Homo sapiens: one gene and its partners. The protein of the gene in region 4 interacts with the protein of the main gene of each other region in a pairwise test. Each region holds a gene or a part of one and is shown on either strand. Other genes may lie near its edges.

The links.
Region 1: the proteins of FAM9A (region 4) and ZNF775 interact in binary tests that used the Homo sapiens proteins (3 or more experiments, as listed by UniProt).
Region 2: the proteins of FAM9A (region 4) and ESRRG interact in binary tests that used the Homo sapiens proteins (3 or more experiments, as listed by UniProt).
Region 3: the proteins of FAM9A (region 4) and ARPC3 interact in binary tests that used the Homo sapiens proteins (3 or more experiments, as listed by UniProt).

What each region holds. Positions count from the first base shown.
Region 1 is NC_000007.14:150,382,216-150,385,970, reverse strand, and holds part of ZNF775 (zinc finger protein 775), read right to left. Parts: exon of another isoform or gene 3,148-3,755; intron 2,171-3,147; exon of another isoform or gene 1,980-2,170; intron 1-1,979. UniProt on the Homo sapiens protein: May be involved in transcriptional regulation.
Region 2 is NC_000001.11:216,503,289-216,507,043, forward strand, and holds part of ESRRG (estrogen-related receptor gamma), read right to left. Parts: coding exon 3,651-3,755; 3' UTR 1-3,650. UniProt on the Homo sapiens protein: Orphan receptor that acts as a transcription activator in the absence of bound ligand. Binds specifically to an estrogen response element and activates reporter genes controlled by estrogen response elements.
Region 3 is NC_000012.12:110,443,697-110,447,451, forward strand, and holds part of ARPC3 (actin-related protein 2/3 complex subunit 3), read right to left. Parts: intron 1,856-3,755; coding exon 1,756-1,855; intron 1-1,755. UniProt on the Homo sapiens protein: Component of the Arp2/3 complex, a multiprotein complex that mediates actin polymerization upon stimulation by nucleation-promoting factor (NPF).
Region 4 is NC_000023.11:8,798,584-8,803,122, reverse strand, and holds the start of FAM9A (protein FAM9A), read left to right. Parts: upstream 1-1,739; 5' UTR 1,740-1,812; exon of another isoform or gene 1,813-1,883; intron 1,884-2,913; 5' UTR 2,914-2,951; coding exon 2,952-3,042; intron 3,043-4,028; coding exon 4,029-4,157; intron 4,158-4,539.

The sequences.
Region 1 (3,755 bases), on a different chromosome or scaffold from region 4:
AAAGCTAAATAAGCCTTCTGCCAACATTACAACCCAGGACTGTCTTTCCCAAGGTCCTGGGGGCCATTTCTTTGAAATTTAAGTATCAAGGAAGACATCACCCCTGCCTCCCAGTCTCCATGGGAGGGTAGGAGCCTAATTTCAGCAGGTGCCTGGCTCCAAATCACAAAACTATCTCCTGTCATAAAAATATAAGAACTTTATTTTTCCTGTGGGTAAAGGCAATTAGCTAACACAGATGGTCACTCCAATTATGAGGTGAATTTAGGACGACCTGCCTGCGTGTGACAAATGGTAATGTCCAGTCCTCTTGCTGGAGGGCTGGTTGCTGTTTATCCTGAGAACATGTCTGTAACGGGCTGCACCTGCCGGCTACATGCAGGCTGAGAGCTTCCGTCTTTGCAGTTACTCAGGGATTGCAGGCTCAGAGCTCCCGTCTTTGCAGTCATTCGGGGTATTGCAGGCTCAGAGCTCCCGTCTTTGCAGTCACTCGGGGTATTGCAGGCTCAGAGCTCCCGTCTTTGCAGTCGCTTGGGGTATTGCAGGCTCAGAGCTCCCGTCTTTGCAGTTGCTCGGGGGATTGTCCATGGTGCGCACCACATTCTGGTTTCATGCACATTCAATCTTTTAAAAGCTGTTTTTCTCTTCTACTTTTGCAAAGAGCTTTTCTGGGTTGGCAAGAGATTTTGTTTTCAATTCTATTTCCCCAACAGGGGCCTGTACGCATGCCTACCATGGTTTCTTACAGAACCTGCTTGTGGTGCAGAGAAAAGGCGAGCAGTGGGGAAGGGGGCGGGAGGAGCCCCTGGTGGGGCTCTGATGGGTGCTGGGGGCTCCTCCCTCCCTCGCCACCCTCCTCCCTTGGGGCCACTCTGTGAGCTTCTGCATGCCACATCTTGGGAAACCTCTCACCAACTGGACTTAACATCCACCTGAAGAGGCGCAGAGGGGCTAGTGGACAGAGAAGCCACCTTGGTAAGGGGAACTCAGACCGAGGAGGGCAGAGCCCAGGCCACAAATTCAGGAGGACAGAAGGATGGGCCTGGGTCTCCACAGAGCGAGACCCCCAAGGCAAATCAAAGACAGTCCTACTTCACCCACCCTGCCTCCCAAGAGGTATTAGGACCTAACAGCCACTCCAGGTAGTAGCAGGCCTTCCACTGTCCGGGACCTCCCAGAGCAGCTCCTCCCTCAAGCCTCGGTGCCTCTGTCTCGGGCCATACCAGGGCTCGAGGGGAAGCAGCCTGTGGCTTACGTAAGAACAGAAATGGAGACAGAAGGAAGAGGACCCAAGAGGAAGAAGTGAGAAATTCAAAGGGGGAAACACAGAGGACAGGAATGAGGGGAGGCCAAGTCTTTGGGGACCCGCCTCTACCTGTGTGCTCAGGTGGGCTATGTCTGGGAAATGGCACAGCAGGTGTCCTACAGACAAAATCCAGGAAAGCCCTCCATGTGTCATGTTCCAGGCTGGCCAGACACACACGTCCCCACCCTAAGCTTCTCTCCTATTCTGCCTTTCACTCTGCTCTGTGCATGGCGGGCCCCTCCTAACCTACCATCCTGACATGTCCTCAGCCACCTGGAGACACCCAGGAGCCAGGTGAGCAGGCTGCCCAGCAAAGCGCCCCGGCTGGAAGACAGGCATCAAGGGCCAGATGCGCCATCTCCCACCAGTGCCCACACCAAGTCTTGGAAGGCCGCTTTGTCTATCGCACAAGGGCCCCCGGGCCCCTACCGGACCACCTTTCCTCTCTGCTGCCCCTCGGGCTCTGAGGGGAGCAGGACACACAGGGGCCCCCTTCCCACGCCTGGCCCTGGCCCGGCCCTCCGCGCACCGGGTCAGGCTGCAGTTCAGTTAAGAGCCTCACAGTGGGCAGGCCTCAGCCTGGGCCCAGCTGCCATGACAACTGAAGACCAACCACACAAAGAGGGGATTGAGCTAGCAGCAGGTGGAGAGGCCCGGGGCAGGGGGAGGCAACAAAGGAGCTTTGGTTGTGGCAGAGACTTGGGGGTGGGGCGGCCAGACAGCAGCTGGGGGAGGAGAAAGGCCACAGGCCAGAAAGAGGCAAGGTCCTCCCCATCGCCGCCCCTGGAACCTCCCACCAGCCCAGCACAGCTCTCACAGCCTCAGCGCCCCAGGTCGGGCAGTCAGAAGCAGACCATGCCACAGGTATCATCTGCTGCTAGTGGAGCGGGAGCAGGATCCGCCACTAGGCGCTAAGGCTTTTGGGGGTGGGGGCAGCTCCCCAAACCCCAGCCAAAGGCCCAGTATCAGGCCCTTCTCAGCCCTGAGGTCCCAGCAGGTCCTCACTTGCTGGGCACAGCTCAGCTGGTCTTCCATAGGAGACCCCCACAGAAACTGGCCTCTCCAGTCCCAGCCCATGCCCAGCCAATGCCTCCCTGCCATGCTGCCCCTTTCTATAGCCTCATCCTTCTCAACTCCACCGGGTCCCCAGCGCCTCCCTGCCCTCCTGCAGCCCATACCTGACTGCTATGTCCTCACCCAGTCCTCTCTCCCTGTGAGACCCCTCACTCAGGTTAGCCCCAGGGAGCGGGGGCTTGCTCCCACACCTGCGCGTCCCTCATATGCAGAAGGTGTGTAATGTGTATTGAATGAATGAACGGATGAGTGAATGAAACAATGGAGGACCCAAGAGGTGGCTCCTCAGGCTCCAGTCTTCTGTCACTATTAAGAAATCCCTCAGGACCAGGCAATGGTATTCTCTGCCTCTGATTTCAGTTAATAGCAGATGTTTTTAATTTAAATATATGATCATAGGGACATAAGAAACTGATGTAAATGCTAAACCACACACAAACACACCCAGATACAATCATATCTAAATACAGCTAAGTAAACAAAAGTTCAAAGACACAAAACTACGTGAGAACACCTGCAAAACTGTCTATGCAAATACAGAGAATGTGAGATATTTTTTAAAACTCACAGACACACCTACAGATCCACAGACACACAAACGTGCCACTGTGAACCAGGGCAGCACGAATCACTGCACAGCACACTTAGGAACACAGAACTGCAAAGCCACCCATGACACAAGTATCCTTGTACACCCATGGCCATCCCATCAGGGTCACTTGCTCCGAGGAAAAGAACTCAGAGAGGTAGAAACAGAAGCAACATACCCTCATCGAGCCAGGAGGCCGGGGCCATAAGTCACCGTTGGATGACCTGCGCTGGGGTGGGATAAGTCAGCAGGAGCTGCAGCTGGCTGGAGAGACGTTACAGCAAGACAGAAAGCCCTAGAGACAATGAGCCTGTGTCCGGCAAGCCTGGTGCAGCCTAAGATCCTCAGGGCCTGGCCTGTGGGCTCTGGCCCAAGGGGATGCAGCGGGCCCTCTCCCCTTCAGCCATCTTTGGGTGACCCTCAGCCGCCACCTGGCTGGCTCCTCAGCCCTAGTCTCCCCCTAGAAGCCCACTGCCTGAGGCTGGCAGGGATGTCCTTCTCAAGGCCACCCTTCCTGGTCCCTCCCCTCAGGACCCCATGTCTTAATCAAGAACCCCAAGTCCCAGCCCACCCACCACTGAGCCGCTGCTAGTCCCTGGCCAGTCATTGCAGCGCTTTGAGCTCAGGTTCTTGAAGGCGCAGGTGAACGGAAATACCTGCTCCCTGAGTTTGGGAGGAGCACCACAGGGCGGCAAGCCTGAGCCGGATGCATCGGGCAGTATCTGTACAAGCCTCTCTGCCAGCGTCCCCGCTGCCACTCACTCCTCCTAAGCCATCACTCCTTCC
Region 2 (3,755 bases), on a different chromosome or scaffold from region 4:
TCCTGAAAGGCATAATAATTTGAGTTACACATCTGAACTGATTGGAGTTACAGAATCATATCTCCTTTTTGCATTTAACAATATATACAATATAAAATAAATACATTTACACAAATGGACATTTGCTGGAGCACACAGTATGGTACACATCACAAAAATATACAATTGATTGCTTTACAGATGTGAAGCCCATCTACAGCTATAGACATGGTTTTATTATTATTATTATTATTTTTACTACTGGCTATAATGCAACTCCTGGATTATTATAAGCAGTTTAAATTTTTTGTCCTTTTACGATCTTTGCACATAAGACTGCCATAAAATGTTTTCCTAGGCAGGTAAACAGAGACGCTTAAATAATTAAAATACAATCACCAACACCCATTTTCTCTTCTATAAGAAAAATAGCAGTTTTAAATTTTTTATATCTTTTATGTTATCATTTAAATGCAAAATAGTGGAATAAATACAACAATCTGATCTGATTGAAACACAAGTGTAACTACAAGGAGTCACACAATCATATTGCTTTAAATAAGAACGAACCTAAAAGAAGCAAAATTAAAATTAAAATCATATGGCTAAAACATACACCTTTATAACTTTCCAAAACTTCACATTAAGTAAATGGTCTTGCTTGAAACTTGAGAAGACTTCCCTCTAGTGAGGTTTAAGATGAGCATTTACCCTAAAGCCCGTGCAGTTCTTTTTAAATCCACGTTTTAGTTTTATTTCCTATTTGTGAGATACTTACTCTTTTGTAATGCTGAGAGTTACTTAAACTGAAAACTAAAAAATTGTATCTCATTCTTTGAACATATCTCCATCTCAGGTTTTCAGTTGGTTGGCTCTTACTTCTGAAGCCCAAGTACTTTAATGTGATACAGTGAAAACAATGTATATATTGTATATATTTTATTTATATATAGTGTAGTTGAATAGTAGCAACTTAAACCCTGCACAAACTTTCTGGAAAATAATCTTTTTAAACACTTACATATATAAATAATCTTATAGAATCAGCACCTTTTTTCCCAGGAGTTGTATTTTCTGTTGTTATTTTTAAAGGGATGTGCCAATTTCTGAACTCCTATCACAGCTATAAATTTCAAGTTATTGACCATCTGAATGAATTGCTAATGATGATTTATCTAGAATCACACTACAGTCACTTCTCTACTGAGAAACCACAATCTACAATATAGTCCCATATAGCTAATGATAGATACACAGTATTCCTAGCACTGGGTTGATGTTTCATCAACCCAAGGTATTTTGTTTAAAGCACACAAAGTAGCAATAGTTTTGGAAACGAATCTGCACCAAAAAGTTTTGCAACAACACAGAGCGAGTTAATAACAACATCTGAGAGATGATTGAGTGAAAGCCATATATACAGCATTTAAAAATTAGACTTATCTATATTCTTGAAATATTCAAAGTTTTATTTCTAAGCTATACATTGGTATTCTATAATAAACCATTAGAGAAATTATTCCTTGTTTTGAAAATATTATTATGATTTTGATGTGTATCTGTTCATAATGAATACTTGTTTGGAGTTTCAATCTCTTAATTATTATTAGGAAGAACCTTATTACTGGTAAGGAATAGAATATACTACTGTAGTCTCCTGAGGAATTGTACATCCAATATTGTCTCTAATTCTACCCTGTGTCTAAAAGCACACACCACAAGAATCCAAACACCACAAGAACAAGACAACAGTCTTTGAATGCAACATAAAATTCAGAAAAGCACAGCAAACATGAAACATTGAAAAGCTGAACTACATTTCTTTTGTTTGTTAGGATTACAATTTTAATTACATCTGTGTACATAGAATAAGACTGTTCACATAATACAGGGAGCAGCTACTAACACTGGTCCATTGGTATAGCATTTGATGGAGGTTACTGTTTATTGGTTATTCAGCGACTGTAGATTTCGGGGCATCTAATTGATTTCTTCATTAGATTACACCTCTTAACAGTCTGGAACCTGACTTGACTTTCATGCTGTGACAATACTGGTTGAAAAGCACATATATTGGCTTAGCTCTTGGTAAAAACTGCAGATTAATTTAAACGAACATTCCTAAATGAATAAACTTATATGGATTAGGTTTTAGAATTTGGTCAGGCATTTTCTGTCTTTGATGATTTTTTTTTTTAATTCTGGCATTTGCCTTATTGCCTCTTAAATGAATACTGGCTCACAGCTCCTTCTGAGGCAAGGTCTGTGACTTTGCAAACAGGCAGTATCACATTCCTAACCACCATGGCAGCTAGAAATCATATGGCAATTGTACCTCCCAAGTAGAGAGGTGCACTCCTGACAATTCTACGGATCTATATCTCATGTGCAGTGCTTATATATGTGACTACTCAGAGTCACTGTAGGTGTAATCTCATCCTTTGTGTCAGTGAACATTTAGGTAAACTGGAGCTCATGTTAAGAAATTGATGTTTGGGACCAGACTGGCACACAACATAAATTGCATCCGTGATAATATGCACCTTCCCTTCAACTATTGCTTGAGTAAGTTAAATTCCCATATTAATAAATGGCTGAAAAGTGGTAAAGCTGGTACAAAAAAATCTCCATTTGTAAGAAGAAACAAAACATTTTTAAAAATCTTCCTTCAGGATTCATTTGTCCTTCATTATTGTTCGTAATTGTTCAAAGCCAGCACAAAATTGCAGTATTCTTATTTCTCTTTAGTATTGCATGAATGAATAAAGCTTAAACTATTCCCTGAAAAAGTTACATAGTAGCTAAACTAACAAATACCTGGAAGACTTGAAAAAACAATTAAGGAATCAAATGGCTGTAACTGATCTAGATGGAAAAGCAATGATAAGAAGCAGCCGATGCAACGTTGCTTAAGTTGTCTAATTAGAGGCTGCTCCCATGAAATCTAATACTGCACTCAGTCAATTTGTATATGTTGCACTGTACTTTTAGGAACGTTGGTTCTCTCTCTTTGATTCCTTAGTCATTGGGGACAGTATGGTTCACAATAAGTTCACTGGCATCCATATTATGGATCTCCATCCTTTGGCAGGGCTGGCTTCCATCTCTCTTCAGTTAGAGACCTCTTTTAAAAGTTCAGCAGCAGAAGGAAGAAAAAGAAAGATGGAAAGAAGGTCAAGAGGAAAGGAAAGGAAAGGGAAAAGGAAAGGGAAAAAGGAAAGAAAGGGAAAGGAAAGGGGGAAGGGAGGATTTTTTTTTAAACTAAAGCTATTTCAAATTTAGAAAAAAGGGGAAGGATGAGAAAAGAGAGGAATGAGAGTAGGTAAAGAAAAGAAAGAAGGCAGGCAGACGGGAAGAAAATAAAGGAGAATGGGAACTAGGAATGAAAGAAGCAAAGAAATAAGGGAGGTGAAAGAAGAAAAGGAGAAAAAATAAAGAGAAAGAGAAATGTGGGAAGAAAGAGGAAAGAAGATGATGGAGAAAGTAGAAAGAAACTCATCAGGAACCTATGGAGGAATCTGAAAGCTGCTTCATAGTCTTGCTGCTAAATTATCAGTGCAGTCTGTTGATTTTTGATGTTGTTAACTAAACTCTAAGTTTCTTCGACATCACTCTTGGGTTTATTTTCCCTTTTTCAACATGAAGGATGGGAAGGCCCAGGGAGCTTTTAGTCAGACCTTGGCCTCCAACATTTCCAAAAAAAGTTTGTGCATTGGGACTTTGCCTTCTAGTTTGATGTTGTAGAAATGCTGCACGGCCTTGGTAGAGGTCTGCCT
Region 3 (3,755 bases), on a different chromosome or scaffold from region 4:
TGCTGGGATTACAGGCGTGAGCCACTATGCCTGGCTGCAATCTGTTTTCTTATCTGTGAAAGAAAACTGTCTTGGAGGACTCAATATTGTTTCCAAAAACCAGCTAGTTCTTCTAAATGCAATGACAGGAGGGGGCAAAGGCCAAAGGATTCTGAAATTAGAAGAATACTTGGCACATAAAAGGCATTCTACAGATATTTGTTGAATATAAATGAATTAGTGTGATTAATGCTGTTATTTAGCTCACAGCACAGGCCTCCATTCCAATTCAGGTTTTTTTTTTTTTTCTTTTGAAACAGAGTTTTGCTCGTTGCCTAGGCTGGAGTGCAATGACATGATCTCGGCACACTGCAACCTCCACCTCCCAGGTTCAAGCAATTCTCCTGCCTCAGTCTCCCAAGTAGTTGGGATTACAGGCATGCGCCACCATGCCCGGCTGATTGTTTGTATTTTTAGTTGAGATGGGGTTTCTCCATGTTGGTTACGCTGGTCTTGAACTCCTGAACTCAGGTGATCCACCCACCTCGACCTCTCAAAGTGCTGGGATTATAGGTGTGAGCCATCACGCCTGGCCTTTGCAGTGAAAAAAAATTTTTTTTTTTTTTTGAGATGAAGTCTCACTCTGTCACCCAGGCTGGAGTGCAGTGGTGCAATCTTGGCTCACTGCAACCTCCACCCTCTGTGTTCAAGCGATTCTCCTGTCTCAGCCTCCTGAGTAGCTGGGATCACAGGTGCCCACCACCATGCCTAGCTAATTTTTGTATTTTTAGTAGAGTTGGGGTTTCGCCATGTTTGCCAGGCTGGTCTCGAACTCCTGACCTTAAGTGATCCACTTGCCTTGGCCTTCCAAAGTGCTGGGATTACAAGTGTGAGCCACCGCACCCAGCCTTGTGATTTTCTTTTATGTTATTTTTCTTCTTTCCCAGGCTGTCTTCTTCCTTGTTCCTTTTCCTCAGAATCAAGTAGAGACTGTGGTGACTCACCATATGCATTAAGTTTACTGAGCTTTCAAATGGTGTTGAAAACAAAATTAAGTTTAAAAAAGGTCAAGTCAAACAGTCTGGCAGAGAAATGGGGACTGGATAAGTACCAAATTGGTAATTATAATAATGGTCTTGGAAACCATGAATGGAATTCAGTTCAGACCCTTGCAGGGTACAGGGAAACCATGTCTAACATAATACAAATTATACTGTTGGGAGAACATCTCAGAAAGCATCAGAAGAGTCTCAGACAGTGTCTGAAAAATATTGCGGCTTTCTGAAATAAAATTCAGAAAAGCGGGAATAGACGTAAGTAATGTTACATAGTACACTTCAGATTTAAGATTGAGGTATTGCTAAAAATGAAGATCTTGAAGAATGAATAAAGGAAGTAGATTTAGACGAGGAAGAGGTTAAAATATTTGTTGTTGTTCTTTTCCAGGTTGATGACAGAAAGGATGGGCATGTGGCATTCTAGACGTAACAGCATTAGATTTGTTTGAAAGAACTGATAAACAGTGTCCAGAATTAAGCACATTTCCTCCATTTTCTCAAAAGAGTTTCCTGGAGAAGTCAGAAGAAATAATACAATTTCCTATTAAATGCAACATATAACCACTATCTTGAAAGGTCTAGACCACAGTATCTACCAAGCAAAGTACAAGGGCAATTTGAGAGAGAAGACTGAGCTAAGAATTTTTCTGATTTGATCATTTCAGAAGATTGTTAGGCATTTCGTACCAAAATTTGAAAATAATGGGTTTAGACTTACTCTCTCTGGGGGCAGGTCCTTTGAATTGACTTCTGATAGGCAACAGTGCCATGTTTCCGATGAGTTTGGTATCAGGATCCATGAGAGAAGAGTGGTAAGCCTGTAATGGCAAGCCCAGGAAGAACACAGAAGCAGAAAAAGAGCAAATGTCACTGTGGCAAACAACCTTCCCTTAAAGGAAAAAAAGAGTAAACCACCCAAGATTAATTAGGGGAGGGAGAAGGGATAGCAGCATTGAGGTGCGAGGGCTGGTTCTTTCTGGCTCAAGAAAACCAATTGTTAAATTTTGAGGCATTTTTCAAGCTGGTTGTTAAACACAGCTCTTCTCAAAAATCAAATTATATAAACTTACAATTAAGTAAATGATGTTGGCTGGACGTGGTGGCTCATGCCTGTAATCCCAGCACTTTGGGAGGCTGAGGCAGGCAGATTGCCTGAGCTCAGGAGTTTGCAACCAGCCTGGGCAACACAGTGAAACCCCATCTCTACTAAAATATAAAAAATTAGCCAGGCGTGGCGGCGTGCGCCTGTAGTCCCAGCCATGTGGGAGGCTAAGCTGGAGAATCACTTGAACCCAGGAGGCGAAGGCTGCAGTGAGCCGAGATCGTGCCACTGCACTCCAGCCTGGGCAACAGAGCAAGACTGTCTCAAAAAAAAAAAAAAAGTAAATAATGTTAAAAACAATGATGCTTAAGTATTCATCACTTCTTTTTTTTTTTTTGAGAAGGAGTCTCACCATGTTGCCTAAGATGATCTCAAACTCCTAAGCTCAAGTGTTCCTCCTGCCTCAGCCTCCCAAAGGGCTGGGACTACAGGTGTGAGCCACCACACCTGGCTACTTCCTAATTTTTTTTTTTTTTTTTGAGACAGAGTTTGGCTCTTGTTGCCCAGGCTGGAGTGCAATGACATGACCTTGGCCCACTGCAACCTCCGCCTCCCGGGTTCAAGTGATTCTCCTGCCTCAGCCTCCTGAGTAGCTGGGATTATAGGGATAAGCCACCACGCCCAGCTAATTTTGTATTTTTGGTAGAGACGATGTTTCTCCATTTTCGCCAGGCTGGTCTCGAACTCCCGACCTCAGGTGATCTGCCCGCCTTGCCCTCCCAAAGTGCTGGGATTACAGATGTGAGCCACTGCACTGCACTTGGCCTACTTCCTAATTTTTTTTTTTTTTTGAGACGGAGTCTTGCCCTGTCGCCCAGGATGGAGTGCGGTGGCGCGATCTCTGCTCACTGCAACCTCCGCCTCCTGGGTTCAAGCGATTCTCCTGCCCCAGCCTCCCAAGTAGCTGGGATTACAGGTGCGTGCCACCACGCCCAGCTAATTTTTGTATTTTTAGTAGAGACAGGGTTTCACCATGTTGGTCAGGCTGGTCTCGAACTCCTGACCCCATGATCCACCCGCCCCGGCCTCCCAAAGTGCTGGGATTACAGGCGTGAGCCACTGCACCCGGCAATAACCTAATTTTTAAAAATTACATTTTACTATTGTCTATGTTCTTAAGGTTATTATTACGAAATACTAAATAATGGGGTGCTGCTGTGCATCTCTTCCAATTCTATGTTCGGTGACATCACATTGGTATCTGGCCAAAGTATTTCCACTACAGAAAGACAAACATCATATAAATCAGGGTACCCAGCCCCCAGCTAAACCAAGACCCAAGCACTATCTTTTCAGCTCTGCCACTTCATGGCGTTATGCTTTTGACCAAGACATCATTCTTCTTCTCTTAGCTTGTTTCCAAATTTGTAAAATGAGAAGATATATATTCCCTTCAGTGGGTAGGTGTGTGTTAAAGGAAGGGATAAAAAAAATCACATTTATGAGAGCATTTTGTATGCTGATTCTTAGTTCTGCTTTTTACAAGATGTCTGGCTTTTTATAAGTCAACATGGGTCCCATTCATATATTCATTCATTCATCAAATGATTGCTAAGCACCTTCTATGTGCAAGACACTGTGATATAGTAATATACAAAGTAGTACGATTCTGGTCC
Region 4 (4,539 bases):
AACACACAACTCTTTAAAACAAGTGAAGTAATACCCATGTAGAATAAAAGCAAAGAAAAAAGAAACAATTCAGATAATCATCACATAAGAACACTTATATGTTTTATTTTATCTTATTTTATTTATTTTATTTTATTTTGAGACAGAGTCTCCTTGTGTCACCCAGGCTGGAGGGCCATGGTGCGATCTTGGCTCACTGCAACCTCCGCCTCCTGGGTTCAAACGATTCTCGCGCCTCAGCCACCCAAGTATCTGGGATTACAGGCGTGGTGCCACCCAGTTTTTTTTGTAATTTTGGTAGAGACGGGGTTTCACCATGTTGGCCAGGGTGGTCTCGAACTCCTGGCCTCCAGTGATCTGCCCGTCTCAGCCTCCCAAGGTGCTGAGATTACAGGCATGAGCCACTGCACCCAGCCACTTACATGAAACATCTGACTGCATTGCTGAATTCAAAATATCTGAATATGTTATACAGAAAAATGTTTTGGAAATCTAATGAAAATTAATAACGAAATACAATGTTCTACTTACAGTCATTGTTGACTTATCTTAATAATTTGTTTGTTTTGTAATGTGACAAAATAGATCTATATTGTTCATCTTGTCAAAAATATTTATGTGCAGAACTGTATTTTAAAACAAGCAAGTACAAAAGGAAATAAATTAAAGTACACGAATATTTTATTACCTCTCAAAATAGCCTGACTTGAAAAGACCATCACTCCATGGCCAATGGATCTACTTGATCCTGAAATAACCGAGAGTGGGGTGTATCTGTTACTATCAGCAGGTCAACCTTACAGCAACAAGAAGAAAGGCCTTTGACAACCTGATGGTCACTCCTGGGATTTCTATGGCTAACTTAAGTGGCAAGAACTAGCAGGAAACTAGTTGACTTTTTTTGAAGAAAGAAATGACAAAAGTTTCTCAATCAGTACCTTTTAGTCATCATTTCTTGGAAACAACTATACATCATACAGTTGATGCCTTTAAAGACACGACTTTGGGTATGGGCTCAGTGGCTCATGCCTGTAATCCCAGCACTTTGGGAGGCTGAGGCAGGTGGATCACTTTGATGTCAGGACTTCGAGACCAGCCTGGCCAACATGACGAAACCCCGTCTCTACTAAAAATACAAAAATTAGCCGAGAATGGTGGCACGCACCTGTAATCCCAGCTCCTTGGGAGGCTGAGGTGGGAGAATCGCTTGAACCCGAGAGGTGGAGGTTGCAGTGAGCCAAGATCTTGCCACTGCACTCCAGCCTGGGCGACAGAGAGAGACTCCGTCTCCAAAACAAACAAACAAGCAAGCAAAAAACATAAAAGCACAATCCATTGATAAAAAGGGTGCAGCTGGACATGGTGGAAACACACAGGGCATGGGAGGGAGCCTGGGCTCCACCTGCAAGGCGAAGGCCATTCTAGCCAAAGGGGCAGGGGTGGCTGGAAGGAGCTCGGGGGCGAGGTCCTAGGCCCCGTCCACTTGGCTTCCATCCCGAGTCCTTGCATCCCTCCCCAGGAGGAGGCGCTGAAAACTTCTGGGGACAGAGGCCCCAAAGAACCACCACCCACCCCAGTCCACAGCAAATATGGGTGGTCCCTTACGGAAAGAGGGAAGGCGTGTCAGCAGGGGTCGTGGCCCCCAAGGTCCTTCACCCGCATGCGCATGCGCACTTAGCTGACCAATCAGAGAGGAGCGTGGATAGCCAGGGCAGCTGCTCTCGCGAGAACTGAGGACCCATTTTTCTAAGAGAGCGTCGTGGTGCCAGTGCCTGCAGGTTCTGTGAGGAAGCGGCATCAGGGGTCCCTCAGGTGAAGCGCTCGCGGTGGGGAGGCAGGAAGTCGAGCATGCGGCCCTCTCGCAACCAGGGTGTGAAGCGCAGGTGAAGCGCTCGCGGTAGGGAGGCAGGAAGTCGAGCATGCTGCCCTCTCGCAACCAGGGTGTGAAGCGCTGAGCGGCCGGCTGACCTGCACACGGGCAGCCCGAGACCCCTGGCCCCTTCTTGGCTTTGGAGTCCACCATGCACGTGCTAAGAGGCCCCAGGTTTTCAAAGCAGGAAATGGCCCTGGCATCGTTGCCTGGGGCCTGGGTCAGGGCGAGGCCCTGAGGGTGGGCTGGGATGGGCCAGGGCAGGGAGGGAGCTGGAGACACCTGAGTGATCCCCAGGGCCCAGGAGTGTCCCCGGGACTTGTGCATGTGTGCAGTGGGTAGGGGTGGGGCAGGGGAGGGGGGCTTGGGGGAATGGAGGGGGTGGAGAGGGGAGCAAGGGAGGGGTGGTGGCAGAGGGTGGAGGGTCGGGGAAGTGGCAGACAGGCAGGGGCCGGGTGTGGGGCCAGGGATGGGGGCAGGGGAGGGGAGGGGTGTGGGGTTCGTGGGGTGAGGGGATGGGGGAAGGGGAGGAGGAGGGGCGGAGTGTGTGGGGAGGCGACAAGCAGGGGTGTTGTGGGGGACAGTTCGAGTGGGTCCCTCCAGCCCGGCCGCCCGTCAGGACAGGACACTTGGGGTCACGAGGGGTCACCTGGGCATCCAGGCAGGCAAGTGGCAGTGCAGCCCCTGACATTCCCCCAGAGATGGCTGGGGAGGTCCTGTGACACCCGTGGTCCTCCGGGCCACGCAGGTCTCTGGGGCACACAGGGGCAGGGCTGAACTCTGTCCCAGGGACACCGCAAGGATCCTGCAGGGGCCATTCAGGTGTGCGAGGCAGCTGTGAGTTCTGCAGCCAGCCCCAGGGACGGGCTGGACGGGCCACGAAGGATAGGAGGGGACACTGGCATCTTCTCCGACCCCTCCTGCTCCCACAGGATACACGGGGTGGGCCAGCCCCACCCTTTCTTGAATCCGAGATCCCGTTGGCTCTCCTTTCACATATCCTGTTTCCTTAGCTTACTTAGTTTGACTTTGCACTCAACCAGGTTCAGGGATCGCCTCTAACTTCCCAGGACAGCCAACCATGGAGCCCGTGGGCAGGAAGCGCAGCAGGAAGGCTGCCAAAGCTCAGTTGGAAGCTCAAGTTACGGCCGCCCAGGGGGCCACGAAAGAAGGTGCACGCCCAAGGAGATGGTCTGTTTGCTCTCTGCGCGGGGGGCACATGGGCAGCCCGAGACCCCTGGCCCCTTTGTGGCTTTGGAGTCCACCATGCACGTGCTAAGAGGCCCCAGGTTTTCAAAGCAGGAAATGGCCCTGGCATCGTTGCCTGGGGCCTGGGTCAGGGCGAGGCCCTGAGGGTGGGCTGGGATGGGCCAGGGCAGGGAGGGAGCTGGAGACACCTGAGTGATCCCCAGGGCCCGGGATTGTCCCGGGGACTTGTGGATGTGTGCAGTGGGGAGGGGTGGGGCAGGGGAGGGGGGCTTGGGGGAATGGAGGTGGTGGAGAGGGGAGCAAGGGAGGGGTGGTGGCAGAGGGGGGAGGGTCGGGGGAGTGGCAGATAGGCAGGGGCCGGGTGTGGGGCCAGGGATGGGGGCAGGGGAGGGGAGGGGTGTGGGGTTCGTGGGGTGAGGGGATGGGGGAAGGGGAGGAGGAGGGGCGGAGTGTGTGGGGAGGCGACAAGCAGGGGTGTTGTGGGGGACAGTTCGAGTGGGTCCCTCCAGCCCGGCCGCCGGTCAGGACAGGACACCTGGGGTCACGAGGGGTCACCTGGGCATCCAGGCAGGCAAGTGGCAGTGCAGCCCCTGACATTCTCCCAGAGATGGCTGGGGAGGTCCTGTGGCACCCGTGGTCCTCCGGGCCACGCAGGTCTCTGGGGCACACAGGGGCAGGGCTGAGCTCTGTCCCAGGGACACCGCAAGGATCCTGCAGGGGCCATTCAGGTGTGCGAGGCAGCTGTGAGTTCTGCAGCCAGCCCCAGGGAGGGGCTGGACGGGCCAGGAAGGATAGGAGGGGACACTGGCATCTTCTCCATCCCCTCCTGCTCCCACAGGATACACGGGGTGGGCCAGCCCCACCCTTTCTTGAATCCGAGATCCCGTTGGCTCTCCTTTCACATATCCTGTTTCCTTAGCTTACTTAGTTTGACTTTGCACTCAACCAGGTTCAGGGATCGCCTCTAACTTCCCAGGACAGCCAACCATGGAGCCCGTGGGCAGGAAGCGCAGCAGGAAGGCTGCCAAAGCTCAGTTGGAAGCTCAAGTTAGGGCCGCCCCGGCGAAGAAGCACACAGGTAAACACAGCCCAAGGGGCCAGAAAAGAAGGTGCACGCCCAAGAGGACGGTCTGTCTGCTCTTTGCGCGGGAGGCACATGGGCAGCCCGAGACCCCTGGCCCCTTCGTGGCTTTGGAGTCCATTGTGCATGTGCCAAGAGGCCCCAGGTTTTCAAAGCAGGATCGAGGGCCTTAGGCTTCCCGTGGGAGGCTCCCCCTCATAGCAGGGTTACAGATGCTCGCAGAGCAGCTCTTCTCCATGGATGCGGTCCTGACATCCAAGGGGTCTGACTTGTGAGCGTTGTTTACTAGGACTTGAACCGGAAGGGCTTCCAAAAATGCCTCGGTAAAACGGTCCGGAGCCCAGTGATTCCATGCATAGCTCTGCTTTAAAGCTTTAAT